Regions from separate parts of the Homo sapiens genome. Here regions 1, 3 and 4 are each linked to region 2. Evidence: fine-mapped expression QTL. A gene starts in region 2. Each other region holds a variant in brackets. All regions are shown on one strand. Distances are from middle to middle.

The links.
Region 1: its variant is fine-mapped to the expression of PNPLA7 in blood mononuclear cells (TOPMed, PIP 0.94).
Region 3: its variant is fine-mapped to the expression of PNPLA7 in whole blood (TOPMed, PIP 0.91).
Region 4: its variant is fine-mapped to the expression of PNPLA7 in whole blood (INTERVAL, PIP 0.95).

The regions. Positions count from the first base shown.
Region 1 is chr9:137,797,188-137,799,924 of GRCh38, forward strand. EHMT1 (euchromatic histone lysine methyltransferase 1) reads left to right here. Exons shown (of 27, transcript NM_024757.5): 17 at 1,626-1,727. Among named protein-coding and RNA genes, the nearest start is that of MIR602, 40 kb to the right of the region's middle. The variant G/A (reference allele first, on the strand shown) is at 1,371.
Region 2 is chr9:137,549,420-137,551,919 of GRCh38, forward strand. It overlaps PNPLA7 (patatin like domain 7, lysophospholipase), which reads right to left and starts at 983. Exons shown (of 35, transcript NM_001098537.3): 1 at 749-983. The coding sequence starts at 778. MRPL41 (mitochondrial ribosomal protein L41) reads left to right here and starts at 2,460. Exons shown (of 2, transcript NM_032477.3): 1 at 2,460-2,500. RefSeq lists an enhancer at 92-593 and a silencer at 1,782-2,500.
Region 3 is chr9:137,570,696-137,573,432 of GRCh38, forward strand. All of the region lies in intron 5 of DPH7 (diphthamide biosynthesis 7), which reads right to left. Among named protein-coding and RNA genes, the nearest start is that of DPH7, 6.9 kb to the right of the region's middle. The variant G/A (reference allele first, on the strand shown) is at 1,376.
Region 4 is chr9:137,393,611-137,396,347 of GRCh38, forward strand. EXD3 (exonuclease 3'-5' domain containing 3) reads right to left here. Exons shown (of 22, transcript NM_017820.5): 2 at 1,693-1,794. The coding sequence starts at 1,747. Among named protein-coding and RNA genes, the nearest start is that of EXD3, 28 kb to the right of the region's middle. The variant A/C (reference allele first, on the strand shown) is at 1,634.

The sequences.
Region 1 (2,737 bases), 250 kb after region 2:
TTGAGCTTCTGTTTGTGTGCCTGCAGACCTCACAGCTAGCTGCTGTCACTGAACCCGACAGAAGCCTTTCCTTACCTGCAGCCCCGCTCTTTGCCACCTTCACGTCTATTCCCACGGGGTTCCTTTGGCTGACTCTCAATCCCCTCACCCCACCACTCTGCCGCTCCCAGCCCTGCCCTCCTCCTGCCTGGTGTCTTGCTCTTGTGACAGCTGGCTTCCTTCACTAAGCTTCCTTTGCTGGCGTCTGTCTCTCACCTGCTTGATTCAGAAGTGCTTGCCCAAGGTCTCTGCCAGGTGCACCTGCTTCTGTCCTGAATTCTGTGACAGTCTGCCAGCAGTTAGGAGATTGTCAGCTGCACTATTCCAGCGATTAAAGACACTTGAAAATTAAGGCAGACCTTTAACAACCATGCATCATTTTGTATTCATAATAAAATTACAATTCTGAACACTAGCCGTGTGGGAACCGGGTGTGCTGGCTTTCCTTGAGGAAGGTGAGCATGCTGATTTAGCCCCAGGTAGGGGAGCAGTATGTGCAGTGATGCCTGCGAAACTCTATGACTGCTACACGGACTCCACCGAGATAAGGGGAGAAAGGTAATGAAGGAACATGGTTAAGTGGAGACAGGAACAGGGGAGCAAAGCAAAGCAAACACCTGAAGGGAGACGGTGGTGGAGTGCGTCTGCGGGCCTGTGTGAGGAGCACAGGCAGGAAGAACCCTGTGTAAGGCGTGTGGATGGCACAGCGGTGTGGGCGGCACCGGCTCCCCTGCCTCTTCTGGAGCTTCCTGGGTCTGACCTCCAACCTTGCATGTCTTTGTTTTCCTTTGAGATGGTTTGATAGGTGTGATCTATTTGGTCTCCTCAGGGAAACAGAGCTGAAAGGAAATGAGAGGGTGTTCCCAATCTGGGCATGGTGGCTCATGCCTGTAATCCCAGCACTGTAATCCCAGTTACGATGCCTACGACTCCCAGACCAAAGTGGGAGGATTGCTTGGGGTCAGGAGTTCAAAAACAGCCTAGGCAGTGTAGCAAGACCCTGTCTCTAGGAAAGAAAAAAGTACATTAGCCAGTCATGGTGGTGCACACCTGTAGTCCCAGCTACGTGGGAGGCTGAGGCAGGAGGATCACTTGAGCATGGGAATCAGAGGCTGTGGTGAGCTGTGATCGCACCACTGCACTCCAGCCTGGGCGATACAGCAAGACCCCATCTCAAAAAGGAGAGAAAGAAAAAAAAAACAAGATGTGCCCAGCAGCAAAGGAAGCAAGAGGAGGGCAGAGTCCCTGGCGTTTCCGGAGCCGTGGGGTGGGCCTGGCGCTCTTTGTGTTCCCACTTTTTGCCATCTATTATTTTAAGTTCTGTGGTACAC[G/A]GACAACTATTGCTGAATCATTGACGGTGTCTTCACTGTGCCAGGCGACTGACCACTCATGGGGCCACAGGGGGCTGCACACAGCGCTTGGACCTCGGCTGTTCCCTCGGCCTCAGCCTGGGTTTCCTTGTCATTTGAGCAGGACAGTACCCCACCCGCATGGTAGACACCGGGTTCTCCTGGATCCCGCACTCAGGGCTGGCACACCAGGATCACAGGTATGGATTCTTTGACTAAGTGGCATTTCTGTTGCAGGACGCAGAGGGCTCTACGTGTTTGCACCTGGCTGCCAAGAAAGGCCACTACGAAGTGGTCCAGTACCTGCTTTCAAATGGACAGATGGACGTCAACTGTCAGGTACAGCCACCCCCTCCCCTTAGCAGTACACTGTGTGGACTGGCTACGGAAACTCACTGTTCTGCAGCTCCTGGTCCCACCCCCATTCTCCATGGCGTCCCCTCCCACGCACAGAGCCAGCTCGGGCCCTCCAGCGTCCTCTTCCACACTTAGGGCCAGCTCGGACCCTCCACAGCGTCCCATCCCACACACAGAGCCAGCTCGGGCCCTCCAGCGTCCTCTTCCACACTCAGGGCCAGCTCGGACCCTCCACGGCATCGCCTTCCACACACAGGGTTAGCTCAAGCCCTTGGGCCCTGGAGTGCCTTGTCCCCTCCCTGTCCCCTTCTTCCCTGGCCTGCTGTGAATGCTCACAGCAGGGCAGGCTCTGCACTGTGTCTGGCTGGAGGCTCCTCCCTTGCTCTCCATCAGCTGTGTCTAGGTATTACCATTTGAGGGAGGTGTCACTAGCCTCCCTCCTTGGCACCCGTCTTCCTTCCTGCTCATTGTCCGTCTCTGCCCCACAGCCAGCGCCACGGGGCAGGGTTTGCCATGCATGTGTGCTGAACCGCGGCGCCTCACACACAGGGGCCACCTGCCTCACGAGTGAATGACTGGGGAGATCAAAGAAGGGCAGGCTTTGAGGCTGCTCAGCTCAGCATGCACTGGGAGTCCCTCCTGCATGGATTGAGGCTGCTCACCATGCACTGGGGGTCCCTCCTGCATGGACCCACAGCTCTGGGATAAGTGCCATCCTCACGCTCGCTCTCACTCCTTCCTTCAGGAGGCTTGGTCCGAGTCTTTTTAGCCCAGTGGTTGCCCACCCAGTTGTTGACGCCCAGCTTCTGTGCCCTCTTGGCTGTGGCAGCGTCCCCATGGGCTGGAAGCAGCAGCGTCTGTGATATGCTCAAAGGCCCATACTCTCGCCTTTGCCCTGAGCGCCCAGAGGTCGGAGCCCCGCCTGGTCCCTGCATCTGAAGCATCCTCTGACCTCTTCTCTCTGACGTTGTACCCTCCTCCATTGAGCAGGG
Region 2 (2,500 bases):
ATTAGCCGGGCGTGGTGGTGGGCGCCTGTAGTCCCAGCTACTTGGGAGGCCGAGGCAGGAGAATGGCGTGAACCTGGGAGGCAGAGCTTGCAGTGAGTTGAGATCGTGCCACTGCAATCCAGCTTGGGCGACAGAGCAAGACTCCGTCTCAAAAAAAAAAAAAAAAAAAGTTCAAGACCAGCCTGGCCAACATGGCGAAACCCCGTTTCTACTAAGAATACAAAAATTAGCCGGGCGTGGTGCCTGTAGTCCCAGCTACCCGGGAGGCTGAGGCAGAATTGCCTGAACCCAGGAGGCGGAGGTTGCTGTGAGCCAAGATCACACCATTGCACACCAGCCTGGGCGACAGAGCGAGACTCCGTCTTGGGAAAAAAAAAAACACAGAAAAAGGTTCTAAGCAAAACCATCAGGCAAAGTCCTAAAGGAACTGGAAGTAGCAACTGTGACCTTAGGGGAAGAAAAGACAAGGCCTCAGGCAATGCCCATGGGCCACCGCTGGCTGCCCTCGCTGTGAACAATGCCCATGGGCCACCACTGGCTGTCTGCTGTGACAGGCGCGTCTAACAAGTGCTGGCAGCTGTGACAGGCAGCAGAGAGGGGCCAGATCCACCACTCCCACAGTCCTCAGGCGCCAAGAAGCCACGGGGCCAAAGAGCGCGGCAGAGCAGACGCCAAGAGGACCCTTCTCTGGGTCCAGAAATGCCCCCCAACTGGGAAATCCAGGCATCTGGTCCCCCGAGTTACATACCTGTGGGCTGTCATCTTTCTCTTCCTCCATGGCCAGAAACAGAAAAAACAGTCAGGGGCGAAAAGCAGACAGCCTGAAGCAAACAAGGGCACACCTCTACCCGCTCATGCTCACACCTGGACACTTTTCCCTGGGTTCCTTTCAAGTCAAATTATGTTTCACTGAAAGGAAAATCCTGCTGAAAAAGTCTGTTCTCCAGGAAGAAAAGCTGTCTTTTGAGAAGTGTCTGTCATCTGCTAGGAGCCACCTCCTTCCCTCTGTAAACAGCCCTCACGTGGCTGTCCCGGAACCCAGAACAGCAGCCAGATGGGGCGTATCCAAGCAGGTCAAGAGGAGCCAGGCCCAGCGCGGCGGGGATGGGGGCAGCGCTGCCTTCTGGAGAAGCACGGCTGGAGGGGAGGTGACGCTGGCGGGGCGTGGATCCGGGGTGTGGGGATGCAGCTGGGGAGGAGGGTGCAGCTGGGGAGGGGGTGGATCCGGCGTGTAGGGGTACCGCTGGGGAGTGGGTGCAGCTGGGGAGGGGGTGGATCTGGGGTGTGGGGGTGCCGCTGGGGAGTGGGTGCAGCTGGGGAGGGGGTGGATCCGGCGTGTAGGGGTACCGCTGGGGAGTGGGTGCAGCTGGGGAGGGGGTGGATCTGGGGTGTGGGGGTACTGCTGGGGAGAGGGTGCAGCTGGGGAGCGCGTGGATCCGGCGAGTGGGGGTACCGCTAGGGAGGGGGTGCAGCTGGGGAGGGGGTGGATCTGGGGTGTGGGGGTGCCGCTGGGGAGGGGGTGCAGCTGGGGAGGGGGTGGATCTGGGGCGTGGGGGTGCCGCTGGGGAGGGGGTGCAGCTGGGGAGGGGGTGGATCTGGGGCGTGGGGGTGCCGCTGGGGAGGGGGTGCAGCTGGGGAGGGGATGGATCTGGGGTGTGGGGGTACCGCTGGGGAAGGGCGTGCAGCTGGAGAGGGGATGGATCTGGGCTGTGGGGGTGCCGCTGGGGACGGGGTGCAGCTGGGGAGGGGGTGGATCCGGATTGTGAGGGTGCGGCTGGGGGGCGACTTCCGCGTGGGGTGAGAGGTCGCCTGCGAGGGTGACCGGGCAGGAGGGCTCAGTGCGCAAGCCGGACGTGCTGGGTCCAAGATTATTGATTAATTTGGGCACCGCGAGGGCTCGAGTCCCCCCACACCACTGCCCGGCCTGCGGGGGAGCACAGACAGCCCGGGCCCTCCCGGCTGCAGGTCCCGGGCTTTCCCCGCGCGGTTGCCGGCTCCGCCCAGAGGAGCCGCGCCCGGCGGAGGGGTAAGAAAGGCAGGGTCGCGGCGTCAACGCGGCGGCCGTCTCGAGTCCAGGGCCCGCGTCCTCCCCGACCTCCCGACGCCACCTCACGGCCTCAGGGGGACTGGGCTCCCGGGAAACCGCCGGCCACCTGGCGGACGAACACAGGCAGTGGCGGGCAGTGGAGACGCCAGGGACCACCGCGCTGAGAGCGATCACTCATCCGCCAGCCCCGCCCCGCGAGCCCCGCCCCGCGAGCCCCGCCCCGCGAGCCCCGCCCCGCGAGCCCCGCCCCGCGAGCCCCGCCCCGCGAGCCCCGCACCGCCGGCCCCGCACCGCCAGCCCCGCGAGCCCCGCCCCGCCCCGCGCGCTCCTCGCATTGGCCGAGTCCCCGCGGCCACACCCCCTACCAGATTGGGGCCGCTATTGGACGCGGCGGCCGCGGCCAATCGGAGCCGCTCTTGCTGCGACGCAGCGGTCGGAAGCGGAGCAAGGTCG
Region 3 (2,737 bases), 21 kb after region 2:
ACCCTCTTCTATTCCGCTACTGCCTCAGGTCATCCTAACCATGCTGGCTACTGGCTACTCTTCTGCCATAGCAGGGCCACTCCTGCCTTAGGACCACTGCCCACCCTGACCATGCTCTCCAACAGTATAATCTGCACCTGCTCCCAGCACCCTTGGTCCCCTCTCACCTCCTTCTACCTTCTTTCCAAAGCACTCATTGCCCCTGACAGGCCATGCAGTCTCCTTCCCTATTACATATTATGCCTTGTGTTTACTGTCTGTCTCCCCGCCACAGAATGTAAGCTGGGTGAAAGCAGGGACTTTTATGTGAAAATCAGCCAGGTGTGGTAACTCACACCTGTAGTCCCAGCTACTCAGAAGGCTGAGGCAGGAGGATCGCTTGACCCTGGGAGGTTAAGGCTGCCGTGACCTGTGGTCACGCCATTGCACTCCAGCTTGGGTGACACAGCAAGACGTGAACCACCCACCCCATCCTCAAAATGTATTTATATAAATAAATTTTTTTTTTTTGAGACAGAGCCTTGCTCTCTCGCCAGGCTGGAGTGCAGTGGTGCGATCTCGGCTCACTGCAACCTCTGCCTCCCGGGTTCAAGCAATTCCACTGTCTCAGCCTCCCGAGTAGTTGGGACTACAGGCGCCTGCCACCATGCCCGGCTAATTTTTTGTATTTTAATAGAGATGGGGTTTCACCATGTTGGCCAGGATGGTCTTGATCTGCTGACCTCATGATCCGCCCATCTTGGCCTCCTAAAGTGCTGGGATTACAGGTGTGAGCCACCGCGCCTGGCCTATATAAATAATTTTTTTAAGAAGGCTGAGTGCAGTGGCTGACGCCTATAATCCCAACACTGGGAGGCTGAGGCAGGTAGATCGCTTGAGCCTAGGCATTCGAGACCAGCCTGGGCAACATGGTAAAACCGCATCTCTACTAAAAATACAAAAATTAGCCGGGCATGGCGGCAGGTGCCTATAATCCCAATTACTCAGGAGGCTGAGGCAGGAGAATCACTTGAACCCAGGAGGTGGAGGTTGCAATGAGCCAAGATTGTACCACTGCCCTCCAGCCTGGGCAATAAGAGCGAAACTCCATCTCAAAATAAATAAATAAATAAAAATAATAAAACTTAAAAAAGAAAGCAGGACTTTTGTCTGTTTAGTTTGCTAAAGTATTCTAATCACCTAGAATAGGGCTCAGCACATAGCATTTGTTGAAAGAATGAATCAGTCCAGAATTATTCAATCATTGCCCTACGGTACCTTTGCTCTGAATTAGCTCAAGGTAGAAGAACCAACCCAAGGAGAGACCTCAAGAAATGAGATCTTTATGGCTCTCAGACGGTTCAAGGCTGTGACAATGAGCAACACAAATAAGAAC[G/A]CCGCCTTACACACGTGCTCGTCACTCGGACAAGCAGAGGCAGCGTGAGCCACGGCGGAGGTGAGGCCTGCCTGGGGTGGAAGGACAGCTGCTCTGCGTCAGTCTTCTAAGGACAAGATTTTAAGCTGGGCATGTCAAAAAAGCAGAATTCACCCATGAAGGAAACATCCCGTGACGAAACCCTGAGACTGAGGGAATGTGGACTATTTCAGGAAAAGGTGACTGAGAGCATAGGAGCCAAAACAAGGCCGGAGAAGCAGGCGTGGACCAGATTCCACAGGCCTTGGGTAATCGCATCACTATTTTGGATTTTATCCTCAATGAAACAGGAACTGTGAGGGGTTCTAACAATGAGTGAGATGCGATAAAGTGTGTGTGTTTTTAAAACACTTGCTTGGCTACTGTGTGGAGACTGGAACAGTCAGGAATGAAGGCAGGGCCATCACTTGCTGCTCTGCTGTAACAAACTAGATGAGACAGTGGCCCGGATGGGTAGCAGCAGGGAAGGGTCAGATCTTTTCTTCGGCTGTTTGCAAATTCAGCAGCTCCTCTTCTGTCTTTTCTCAGAGACCCGCCCCTCTCACCTGCCATGAGTTATCTCTACCTGGGAAAGAGATGCTAGCCAAAGCTACCTCCTTCCTGGAAACACCAGTTGTTAATTTCTCACTCCCACATCAGCATGCCCCAAATGCAAACCATTCACAAGACCTGGAAAGGAATCTTATTTCTCTCATGCTTCCTTTATTTCTGGAAGATAAACTATATCCAAAAAGGGTGCAGACAAACTTGAAATCCAACATGGCGAAGTCACTATTGTATCCACAGGTATCAGGCAAAAAGCACAGAAACTGGACTTCCAGTAAAAGCATAAAGGATCTGACACCGAGCATATCAGGGAGGCAGGATGGCTCTGCCCACAGGTGCCTGCTCCTCCAACACCCTGGCCAACACCACCCAAGACCCTGCACTGCCTGAGGCAAGCTATACTTTGCTCTCTAAAGAATAAGTGGGCGGGGCAAGGTGGCTCACGCCTGTAATCCCAGCACTTTGGGAGGCCGAGGCGAGTGGATCACGAGGTCAGGAGATCAAGACCACCCTGGCTAACACAGTGAAACCCCGTCTCTACTAAAAATACAAAAAATTAGCCGGGCGTGGTGGCGGGCACCTGTAGTCCCAGTTACTCGGGAGGCTGAGGCAGGAGAATGGCGTGAACCTGGGAGGCGGAGCTTGCAGTGAGCCGAGATCGCGCCACTGCACTCCAGCCTAGGCAACAGAGCAAGACTCCATCTCAAAAAAAAAAAAAAAAAAAAAAAGAATAGCTAAGTGGGCCGGGTGCAGTGGCTCACACCTGTAATCCCAGCA
Region 4 (2,737 bases), 160 kb before region 2:
GAAGAGGAAGGCAGAGAGGAAGCCCCTGGAGGGGTCCAAGGCCCGAGGAGGCAACTGCGTGGGATAGGGAAACTGAGGCAGAGAGCCTCAGCTGCTGCCATGTGGGAGCAGGGCTTTCACAGAGGGGAGGGCCATGGCCCTGCCCCATGGAGGGGCTGCCAGGCAGGGCATGTGTAGGGTGGAACTGGGCAAAGGCCAGGGGGCGGTGAGTGAAAAGGCAGTAAACCCACAACAAACTGAGGGCCTGCAGCCCAGGGCGAGGCGGCTGGGCCAGGGCCTTACAGCTCTCACTGCTGTTTACAAGGACTGCAGGGTGAAGGATGTGAAGGGGCCCCGGCACCCCCTTCTCACCCTCTGCCCACAAAGCCATGGCCCCGGACAGCTCCCACTGGGGCCGAGCCCCTGCCAGGAGGCTTCCCGCCCCAGCCCGTCCCCGGCACAGAGAGCAGCTGAGGCTCGGGCTGACCCCTCTGGCACTAGGCAGCTCCACTCCTTCCCAGCCGCCGCTTCCCTAACCCCAGCCTCCCAGCCTCCATTTCCCTAACCCTGGCCTCCCAGCCTCTGCTTCCCTAACCCCAGCCTCCCAGCCTCCGCTTCCCTAACCCCGGCCTCCCAGCCTCCGCTTCCCTAACCCCGGCCTCCCAGCCTCCGCTTCCCTAACCCCGGCCTCCCAGCCTCCGCTTCCCTAACCCCGGCCTCCCAGCCTCCGCTTCCCTAACCCCGGCCTCCCAGCCTCCGCTTCCCTAACCCCGGCCTCCCAGCCTCCGCTTCCCTAACCCCGGCCTCCCAGCCTCCGCTTCCCTAACCCCGGCCTCCCAGCCTCCGCTTCCCTAAGCCCGGCCTCCCAGCCTCCGCTTCCCTAACCCCGGCCTCCCAGCCTCCGCTTCCCTAACCCCGGCCTCCCAGCCTCCGCTTCCCTAACCCCGGCCTCCCAGCCTCCGCTTCCCTAATCCCGGCCTTCCAGCCTCCGCTTCCCTAACCCTGGCCCAGTCTTCAGCTTGCAGGGTCTCGATCTGTAGGAACAGGAGGGAGAGAGGCTGCACCTCCCCTCGGGCTGTTTATCCTCAGCACTGAATCTGGCAGGGCAGCCGAGCGAGCGGGGATGCGGCCTCCCCGGCTTTGCCCACAGGGAAGGTGCCTCTCATTTCTCTTTTTTAACCTGAAAAAGCTGCTGGGAGGGCAGATGTTCTTCTTAACTCGAAGGGATGAAAAATGCCTCAGTTTAAAAAACTAGGGACCCTGGAGGCCACCCTGGAACCGCCCGAGACCCAAGAGGCTGTGGGTTCCCTGAGCCCCCAGTGGCGGCGCTAAGCCCCCAAGGGTGTTCCGGGCCCTCCGCCTGGCTCCCCGAGGGACAGAGGGGACCAGAGCTCCCACCTCTGCGGCCAGCCCTGAGCAGCTGCACTGTCCCCGCCACCTCCCCCGGATCCTGTCACAGGCCCGGCGCCAGGCCACCCACGCTGGGGCCCAAGGAGGCGGCCTGTCCTGACCCCCGAGGACAACAAGGCCACAGTGGGGCCTCCGGACTCACAAGGTCCCAAGCCGTGGACACTGTAGAGAGGCCCGCAGCTAGGGGCCAGCAGCCTGGCCCTCGTCACTGAGTACACAGTGGGCGCCACCACCCCCCATGCAC[A/C]CCCACGCACCTCCCCCCACAGCCCCAGGGAGACTCGGCACCATCAGGCTCAGACTCACCCATGCGGTGGCGCTCGCCAGCGGCAGGGTCACCAGCGGGATCTCCTGGGTCCATCCTCAGGGCCGGGCCGAGGACGCTGGCAGGCAGCTAGGAACGAGGATCTGCAGAAACAGACAATCAGGTGAATGCAGAGCCCACTGCAACAGGCAGCCATGCAGAGCCCACGCCCACAGCCCCTGGAGGTGGTGGAGGGAGCTGGTGCCTGGGGGGGCCCAAGTGGGACCCCCAGTCGCTGAGCATAGCGGGCAGCTCCACACTCCTCTCCCAGCTGGGGTGACGGCTGCCAAGTTTGGACCCTGCATTCCAGTTCCCTGCCAAACCGTCCCAGCTTTCAGCAGGGAGGGCAGGGGGTGGGAGGGGCCCTGGGGGGGGGCACAGTAGACAGACCCTCGCGGGAGTGCAGAGGGGCCTGTTCTTGAGGACAGCGTGACCCCCCTTGCCATGTCCCCCTCAGGCTGTGTGTCCTGCCCTGAGGGAGCCACATGGGAGAGAGGTGCTCTCCTCCAGAGGGCAAGGGCGCCTGCAGGACCAGGGACCTCGGAGTGACGCCCTCACGGCTGACCCAGTACGCAGCTCCGTAAGACTCCAGGCGGCCGCTGACAGCTCTCATCCCAGGCAGACCTCAGTCTCCCTCAGAGTGTTTTTTTTTCTTTTCTTTCTTTCTTTCTTTTTTTTTTTTTTGGAGACAGAGTCTCTCTGCAATGCCCAGGCTGGAGTGCAGTGGGGCCATCTCAGCTCACTGCAACCTCCGCCTTCCGGGTTCAAGCGATTCTCCTGCCTCAGCCTCCCGAGTAGCTGGGATGACAGGCATGCGCCATCACGCCTGGCTAATTTTTGTATTTTTAGTGGAGATGGGGTTTCCCCATGTTGGTCAGGCTGGTATCGAACTCCTGACCTCAGGTGATCCACCCGCCTCAGCCTCCCAAAGTGCTGGGACTACAGGCGTGAGCCACCGCGCCTGGCCCCTGGGAGTGTTTTTGATGCAAAACCCTTATCTACACTTACGAGGGTCACCCTTCTCCTTCAGTCTGCTTACGCAAGGCT